Linked DNA regions of Homo sapiens. The protein of the gene in region 1 purifies or fractionates together with the protein of each later gene. This does not show direct contact. Each region holds a gene or a part of one and is shown on either strand. Other genes may lie near its edges. The genes, in order: ILDR1 and HECW2.

Region 1 (3,823 bases):
CTGAAAGAGCAAAGTTGCAACCAGGATGACTACAATCAGGACGTTTCTCTTTTTTGATCCTGTTCACATTTTCAGCCTGATTTGCTGCTTTGGGTCCTTTCTTGAAAACTCCACCTGCTTAGTTCTGTGCATGCCCAGTGTGGTTAGGTTTACAGAGAAGTTAGAGGATATAGGAAAAGAAAGTGGGTGATTTTTGCCTTTGAGATGGACTGTCTTGCTACTGCCTTTCCTTCCCAATCTGGAAAATCTGACTGCTTTTTAAGAGCCTGGCGCCTGACTTCTACTTTGGAAGATCAAGCTTGCTTGCTTGGGAAAAATTGGGATTTGTTGTCAGCAAGGCCCAAGCTCAAATCCTGATGCTGACACTTTTTAGGTATGTGATGTTGGACACGTGGGGGTGTGGCTTATACTCTGAGCTGAACTTCTGCCCACCTATATGAGCAGGGCTGTTGCCTAGCTGAGGGGGTTTGTGAGATTTAGAGACCAAGAATGTACATCACCCGGTGCATAATAGATGCTAAGGACCCACAGCAACAACTGAGATATGGGAGAAGAGTTTGCTGGGTTGTTCAGTACCTCTTCTCCTGGGACTCTTCCCGTGTGTGTGTGTGTGTGTGAAAGAGAGAGAGAGAGAGAGAGAAAGAGAGACAGGGCAGGGGGTGGACGTTTGAGGTCTGCACAGGATGCTGTGGGGCTGGCTGGCAGACCCCTGGAGAGAGTGTGAATGAGCTCAAGATGGCCAGAACTTGTTGAACCTGGCAGATATCAAGGCTTGATATTCACACAGGGATGAAATAGAAGAGAAGATAAAAGAGTACCCAAGCAGCAAAGTCAGTGCTGACGTTGGTAAAGGTGAGTTTTGTCACCCCAAATGTGGTTTGTCCACAATAAGGGCATTCATGGAAGGGGAGCTGAGTGATCACCTTTCTCCCCATTTCCCCTCCTCAAGGGTGTCAGATTCTGCAATCTTCAAAGCTACCCCACAGCAATTTCTGACTCTAACCAAATTCCTTTTTCTGACCCCCAGCAAACCTGGTCTCCCTGCTCCCAAATGCGCTACCTCTATACAGGTGATATTGACTAGAGTGTTGATTAAACTGCTATTTATATCAAATTACATTCAGCCAAATAAGGAGCCTACATGTTCTTTATTTTACTGTGTCAGAGTGACTGCACCAGTTATATTTTAATTATTGCTCACATAGCCTGGCCCCCAGCTCAAATTATTTGCAAACTTGTGAATACCAATTATCTTTTATTTAAAGAATAGCCAAGCTGAGAGGCAGGAGCACTGCTCAGGGACAGAATCTCGACTCTGACCCCCTTAGAAAAAACGAATGACCACAGACAAGTCCCTTAAATTTCCAAGCCTCAGATTTGTTGTACAGGAAGTGAGCACAGCTAATCTTCTCCCAGGTATCACATTTAGTATATAAAAGAATATATTTGAAGATGCTGTTGAACCTAAGATTTTATTTAGACCAATATCAGTGTTTTCCTCTCTCTTCTCATCGGTATGTGTGTTATGGAACAAAATAAGCCAGTGTTGACAATGGCAACCTATTCATTGTGAAAATCTTATCTGTGGCTGCTTCTACTATTCAGATAAAACTGTGGTTGGTGAGATCTCCAAGGTCTATTTCAGGTCAGTTCTGGAAGAAAAGAAACAAACAAACAAAAAACAAAAAACACACAAAGGGGTAGTCACAGAGAAAGAACAAGAACCAAAAATTAGATTAAGAAAGCCATGTTAGGCTTGAGATGCTGGTCACCGGCCCTTCCATTCTAATTGGCCTGATTTCTGGGACTCTACAGCTTACGGAGACAGCAGCTTTTTTTCCCAAAACCACTCAAGGTTTATTTTTAAAATGATATATATTTTTTTTTCATTTACAGCTGAGTGGGGAAGTCATCTATCTTCCTAAAAACACCACTTTCACTGTATTACTGTTCTTCAGAAAAGACTTCAGTGATGATCCATGGACAAGAAATTGAACTGGATTGTGATTTAGACTTCACCCCATCGCCCCACCTCCCACTCACCACCACCAGCCCCGCCTTATTTATCTTCTCTGTTTTCCATAAAGCTGGAGACACAGCTAGATTGGTTTCCCCCAGGTTACCCAAGTAACTGCCCCTTCCTAATAAGGCTCTTTGCTCCCTCCTTTCTTGCTTACTGAAACAATGAGTTTCTCTGCCTTCTTCCTACTTCTCATGCGTGATCTTAGTTCTACCTGCTTCTTGGAGCCTAGGTTAAATCATTTCCTTTCATGAAGTCTTCCTGCCCACAGCTCTCGCCTGCACTGCCGCAGAGTCTCTATCCAGCACATCTGCCATGGGGCATCTGCATCACAGCCCAGTCCTGGAGATAGGTGGTCAGGTCATTTCTGTGAGTGCCTGTCCTGAGCAGCATTCTGCTGTCTGTCTATGGATGTGAGAAACCCAGATGCAGGTGCCTATCAGAAGTTTAAGGGGACAGTCTTACAAGGGCTGTGACCAGTAGGTCAGGCAGGACCCAAGAATCATGTGCTCTAGCGTTCAAGACAGGCCCACCTAGCTGCTCCGTAGGATAATAACTACATTTGTTTTGTTTGTGGGAGTACCTTGGTCAAAATGAAGGTGGCTCCGTTTGAAAACTCTGTTGGAGAAAACCCCAACTCCAACCTCTTTCTCCTTGGCCCTCGTAATAAGGGGAAAAAAAGGAAGAGACTCACATACTGACACTAATGTGGCAGTGTATGTGCAAGGCTTCATGCCAAGGACAGTAGATTATCTCATTGCATTCTTGCAAGGACCTGATAAGGCTAGCACTATCATCATCTTCATTCATGGCTGAGAAACTAGCTCAGAGAGAGAGTAAATAACTTGTCCAAAATTCAAGTAAATATTAAAGTTTAATTTGAACCCAGCTGTATCTGAATCTAAAGCCTGTGTGTGTGTGTGTGTGTGTGTGTGTGTGTGTGTGTGTGTTTTAAATTGAGTCTACACCAGTGGTTCTCAGAGTATGGTCCTTAGAGCAGTAGCATCAGCATCTCCTGGAAATTAGTTAGAAATTTATATCAATTGCTGTGTGCAGTGGCTCACGCCTATAACCCCAGCACTTTGGGAGGCTGAGGCTGGAGGATTGCTTGAGGTTAGGAGTTCAAGACCAGCCTGGGCAACATAGCAAGACTTCATCTCTACTAAAAATTTAAAAAGTCAGGCATGGTGGTGCATGCCTGTAGTCTCAGCTACTTGGGAGGCTGAGATGGGAGGATCACTTGAACCCAGGAGGTCAACGTTGCAGTGAGCCATGATTGCGCCACTGCACTCTAGCCTGGGCAACAGAGCAAGACTGTATCTCAAAAAAAAAGAAAAAAAGAAAGAAAGAAAGAAAAAAAGAAGGCCAGGTGCAGTGGCTCAGGCCGGGCGCAGTGGCTCACACCTGTAATCCCAGCACTTTGGGAGGCTGAGGCGGGTGGATCATTTCAGGTCAGGAGTTTGAGCCTAGCCTGGCCAACATGGTGAAACCCTGCATCTACTAAAATACAAAAATTAGCCAGGTGTGATGGTAGGCGCCTGTGATCCCAGCTACTTGGGAGGCTGAGGCAGGAGAATCCCATGAACCCGAGAGGTGGAGGTGGCAGTGAGCTGAGATCGTGCCATTGCACTCCAGCCTGAGTGACAGAGCGAGACTCTATCTCAAAAAAAAAAAAAAAAAAGAAAAGAAAAGAAAAGAAAAGAAAAGAAATAAAAAATGCGTGTCTCTGGGCCTCACCCAAGTCCTACGGAACTAGAAACTCCTAGCATAGGGTTCAGTGATCTGGGCTGTCACAAGTCCTCT
Region 2 (3,823 bases), on another chromosome or scaffold:
TTTAAAAGTACATGAATTTTAAGTGTTACCAATCTTATGTTATCACTTATCGCTTTATATTAACTTATCTGTTTGTGTACTTGGCTCCCCAACTAGCCCATTAGCTCCTGGGGGTAGTGACTATTCATCAAGTAGCTATTCAGATGTCTGGTACATGCTTGATGCCTAATGAATGTTCAGATTGAACTGAAAAAAAATGACCCTTAAAATTGGGTTAAGGGGAGTGAAATTTCAAAACAGCTATAGCAAATCAATGACTACCACTGTACAACTGGGCCATGGAACAGTAACTTACCTCATGTCGATTCTTTCTCTACAATTAAAAAAAGTGGGGGAAAAATACAGATTGACGGCAGGTTCTGTGGCTTACTATTTTCAGAATAAGAACCATGAAGAAAAAGGGAATGTATGTGAAGATGAATCATGTCTTTAATAAAAAATAAAATAAAATAAATATTAAAATAAAAATCATGTCTTTCAATTAAAAAAAGTTAAAATATAGAAATATATAAATAATTTCAAATTAAGATAACAGTATTTTAAGGTAGTATAATATGGCCAGAAAGAATAATGGATCCAAGTTGTCAACCCGAGTGCCAGTTCCTGATCTGGCATTGATGATGGATGACTGCGCAGATGGCACTCATTCTTTGCACCTCCAGTTCTGTGTCTATAAAGGAAGACGCAGGCTGAATGATTCCTGTGGCATATTATATATTTAGGACTTTCTAATTTTATAACAAATTTCTGAATTATTTCACTGGTTTGGTTTAATTACTGGACTTGGACTAAGAACATTCCAGAAATCACTGCCTATGTAGTGGCTCTTATTCTTCTCTTTAATTCTTAGTTTCTTTCCTTATGACTCTGGGTTTTTGCTAATAGCCATGCCTACATATTTGTTTCTGTCTGTTTGTCATCTTAGTCTATGTGACCTGAGTGACCTAGAATACCTTGATGAAGAGTTCCATCAGAGCCTGCAGTGGATGAAAGACAATGATATCCATGACATCCTAGACCTCACGTTCACTGTGAACGAAGAAGTATTTGGGCAGGTGTGTGTATCTGCACACCTGGCGCCTAAGTGTGGTAACTGAAGGCTATTGATGAGTGAAGAATTAACTCCATGGCTAAGATCAGATGCTTATTTATTCGTGGTTTATTGGGTGATTTAAACTCAGGATCACACACAGTTATAATAACCGCAGTTATAAAGATTAGAATTAATGTCAGCTGCAGATTAAGATGCTGTAAATTACAGATGGTGATAACTGTTTATGTTGTAAGCAATCTTCTTTTTATTTCCAACTAAAATATCCCCCAAAATATGAGAATTTACCTTATATAGAATGCAGTTTTTTAAAGTCCACACTACAGAATTTTTTAATTGGCATTTATAGAATGGTGGCTGGGCACGGTGGCTCATGCCTGTAATCCCAGCACTTTGGGAGGCCAAGGCAGGAGGATCAGTTGAGCCTAGAAGTTCAGGACCAGCCTAGGCAACATGGTGAAACCCTATCTCTACAAAAAATACAAAAATTAGCCAGGTGTGGTGGCACATACCTGTAGTCCCAGCTACTCAGGAGGCCAAGGTGGGAGGGTCACCTGAGCTGGAGAGGTTGAGGCTGCAGTGAGCCTGGATCATGCCACTGCACTCTAGCCTGGGGGACGAGAGTGAGACCCTGTCTCAAAAAAGAAAAGAAAAATAAAGAGAACCAAAATTGATTTTTTTGAAGCTAAGGGAACATAAACAATGTTTTGGGGAAGACTTAAGAACAGAATATATTAATTTTTTTTTCAAAATTGGTGGAAGAGTAGGGAAAACGTTTCTTCCAGAAATTATATACCAGTTTATAATTAATATTCTTATTTAGGCATTAATCTTTAGCTGCTTTTCTGCATTCCATGTGTTTTGAAAAAGTTCTCAATTTAACATTCACTTGAGTGTAATTCTGCTTTAAAGTAAATCTTTACGCTAGATATAGTCAATTCTGAGAAATTTGTGAAAATGGGTTTTGTCAAACATTCAAATAGTAGCAGGCTAGTATCTGAAGCCGATTCATCGGCATTTTAAAACTTAACCTGTAGTAACAGCAATACATATATATACTTTAATCACCAAAGCTTTCAAGCACCCCCTCAATGCCTATTTTTTCCTGAGTGTGTGTGCTCCGTGAGTGCCTGGGGCCTCACTGCCAGCTTGTGGGATGTGCCTAGGGCAGGGCTGGGACAGGTAGCTGGCTGATTTCAGCTCAATGCTAGTAATGTTGTTATAACATTAAGAGTATTGCTTTGTAGTCATTCTTTTTATTTTGTAATCTCAGATAACTGAACGAGAATTAAAGCCAGGGGGTGCCAATATCCCAGTTACAGAGAAGAACAAGAAGGAGTACATCGAGAGGATGGTGAAGTGGAGGATTGAGAGGGGTGTTGTACAGCAAACAGAGAGCTTAGTGCGTGGCTTCTATGAGGTAAAGACAATCAGCAGTAGGAGGAGTTTGCAGTCTGATATCAATGATGCCACAGTCCATCTTATTGTACTTTACATGTGTAGACTATTTCTGCTGTATTTACTGTTGCTCTTTCCATGCGAAAAGTTCAGTATTTTTTCCCTTATGTTTCAAGAGCACCAAAAGAAGCTTAACTCACTGTTACGAGAGATCACTGAAATAAATGTTATGGACTGCATTCAAGTAGCATTTGTTGATTTAATGACCACTAGTAACATTTAAGCCATGCATCTTATGCTTAGATATGGGTAATCAAATCTCATGCTTGCTATGTGAAATAATTATATCTGAGATCAGAATGAGTTGGCATGTATTGTATGTGACTTTTTCTGTAGAAACACTAGATAGTTTCCTAAAGGTGGACGGGACCTAGATTAATCAGCAATCAATTATAAAACAAAAATTCTGTCAAGGCAAATCTCATCAACCTTATACTAAAGAATGCCTTATATTTGTAGGGAGCTTTACAGGTTTTCAAGTGCCAACACAAGGTACACACATATTATTCCTGAAACTCCATGTGTCCCCTTTTCTAAGGCTTAATTATAGCTGATATTTCTCCAGGCTCCTAAGCCATGCCTTGTACTCTTTTTATTCCACAGGTGGTGGATGCCAGGCTGGTATCTGTTTTTGATGCAAGAGAACTGGAATTGGTCATCGCAGGCACAGCTGAAATAGACCTAAGTGATTGGAGAAACAACACAGAATATAGAGGAGGTGAAATTTGATTTATAGATGGCTAGATTTTAAATTTCAAATTAAAGGAAGGCATGGTTCAGCTTGCCAACTGAATATAGGACAGGCAACAGCACTTGGACTCTAATCATAGGTCTGATGCAGGCTCCCTTGAGACCTTGGGCAAGGTACATTCTCTTCTTTTCCTAATTACCTCATCTGTCAGATGGGAGAAGGACTGTTTACACACCGTCAAAGGATGTCATAACTCTTAATTGTTGGTGAGGAAATGTGACCGTAAGAACACTAATTAATTACTTTATCGTGTTGTCAGTGAAGCACCAAGGAGCTAACATCCAGCTGGTCAAACTCCACCTATTCCATTTTGTTTCTAAAACTTAGAAAAGCACACCCTTTGAGCTTCCCAATCAGCACAGTTTTTCCACTGTTCACTACGCTCCTTATCAGTTGTAATTCATAGTCAGAACACTTGAATGGAATAAGACACAGTTCCCAAAATACAACATTATTGGAGAAGTTCTAAATTCAAGCATGAATTTCAAGTGAAAAGAAGACTGTAGTAAGATTAATTAAAAACTGCACTATCTGACACTTCACAAAATGGGAAGCTAAAAAAG

The links.
Region 2: the proteins of ILDR1 (region 1) and HECW2 purify together in Homo sapiens (affinity purification with mass spectrometry; one large-scale study listed by BioGRID and IntAct). This does not show direct contact.

The regions. Positions count from the first base shown.
Region 1 is NC_000003.12:122,008,472-122,012,294, reverse strand, and holds part of ILDR1 (immunoglobulin-like domain-containing receptor 1 isoform 1 precursor), read left to right. Parts: intron 1-3,823. UniProt on the Homo sapiens protein: Maintains epithelial barrier function by recruiting MARVELD2/tricellulin to tricellular tight junctions (tTJs).
Region 2 is NC_000002.12:196,219,443-196,223,265, reverse strand, and holds part of HECW2 (E3 ubiquitin-protein ligase HECW2), read left to right. Parts: intron 1-925; coding exon 926-1,055; intron 1,056-2,324; coding exon 2,325-2,471; intron 2,472-3,112; coding exon 3,113-3,227; intron 3,228-3,823. UniProt on the Homo sapiens protein: E3 ubiquitin-protein ligase that mediates ubiquitination of TP73. Acts to stabilize TP73 and enhance activation of transcription by TP73. Involved in the regulation of mitotic metaphase/anaphase transition.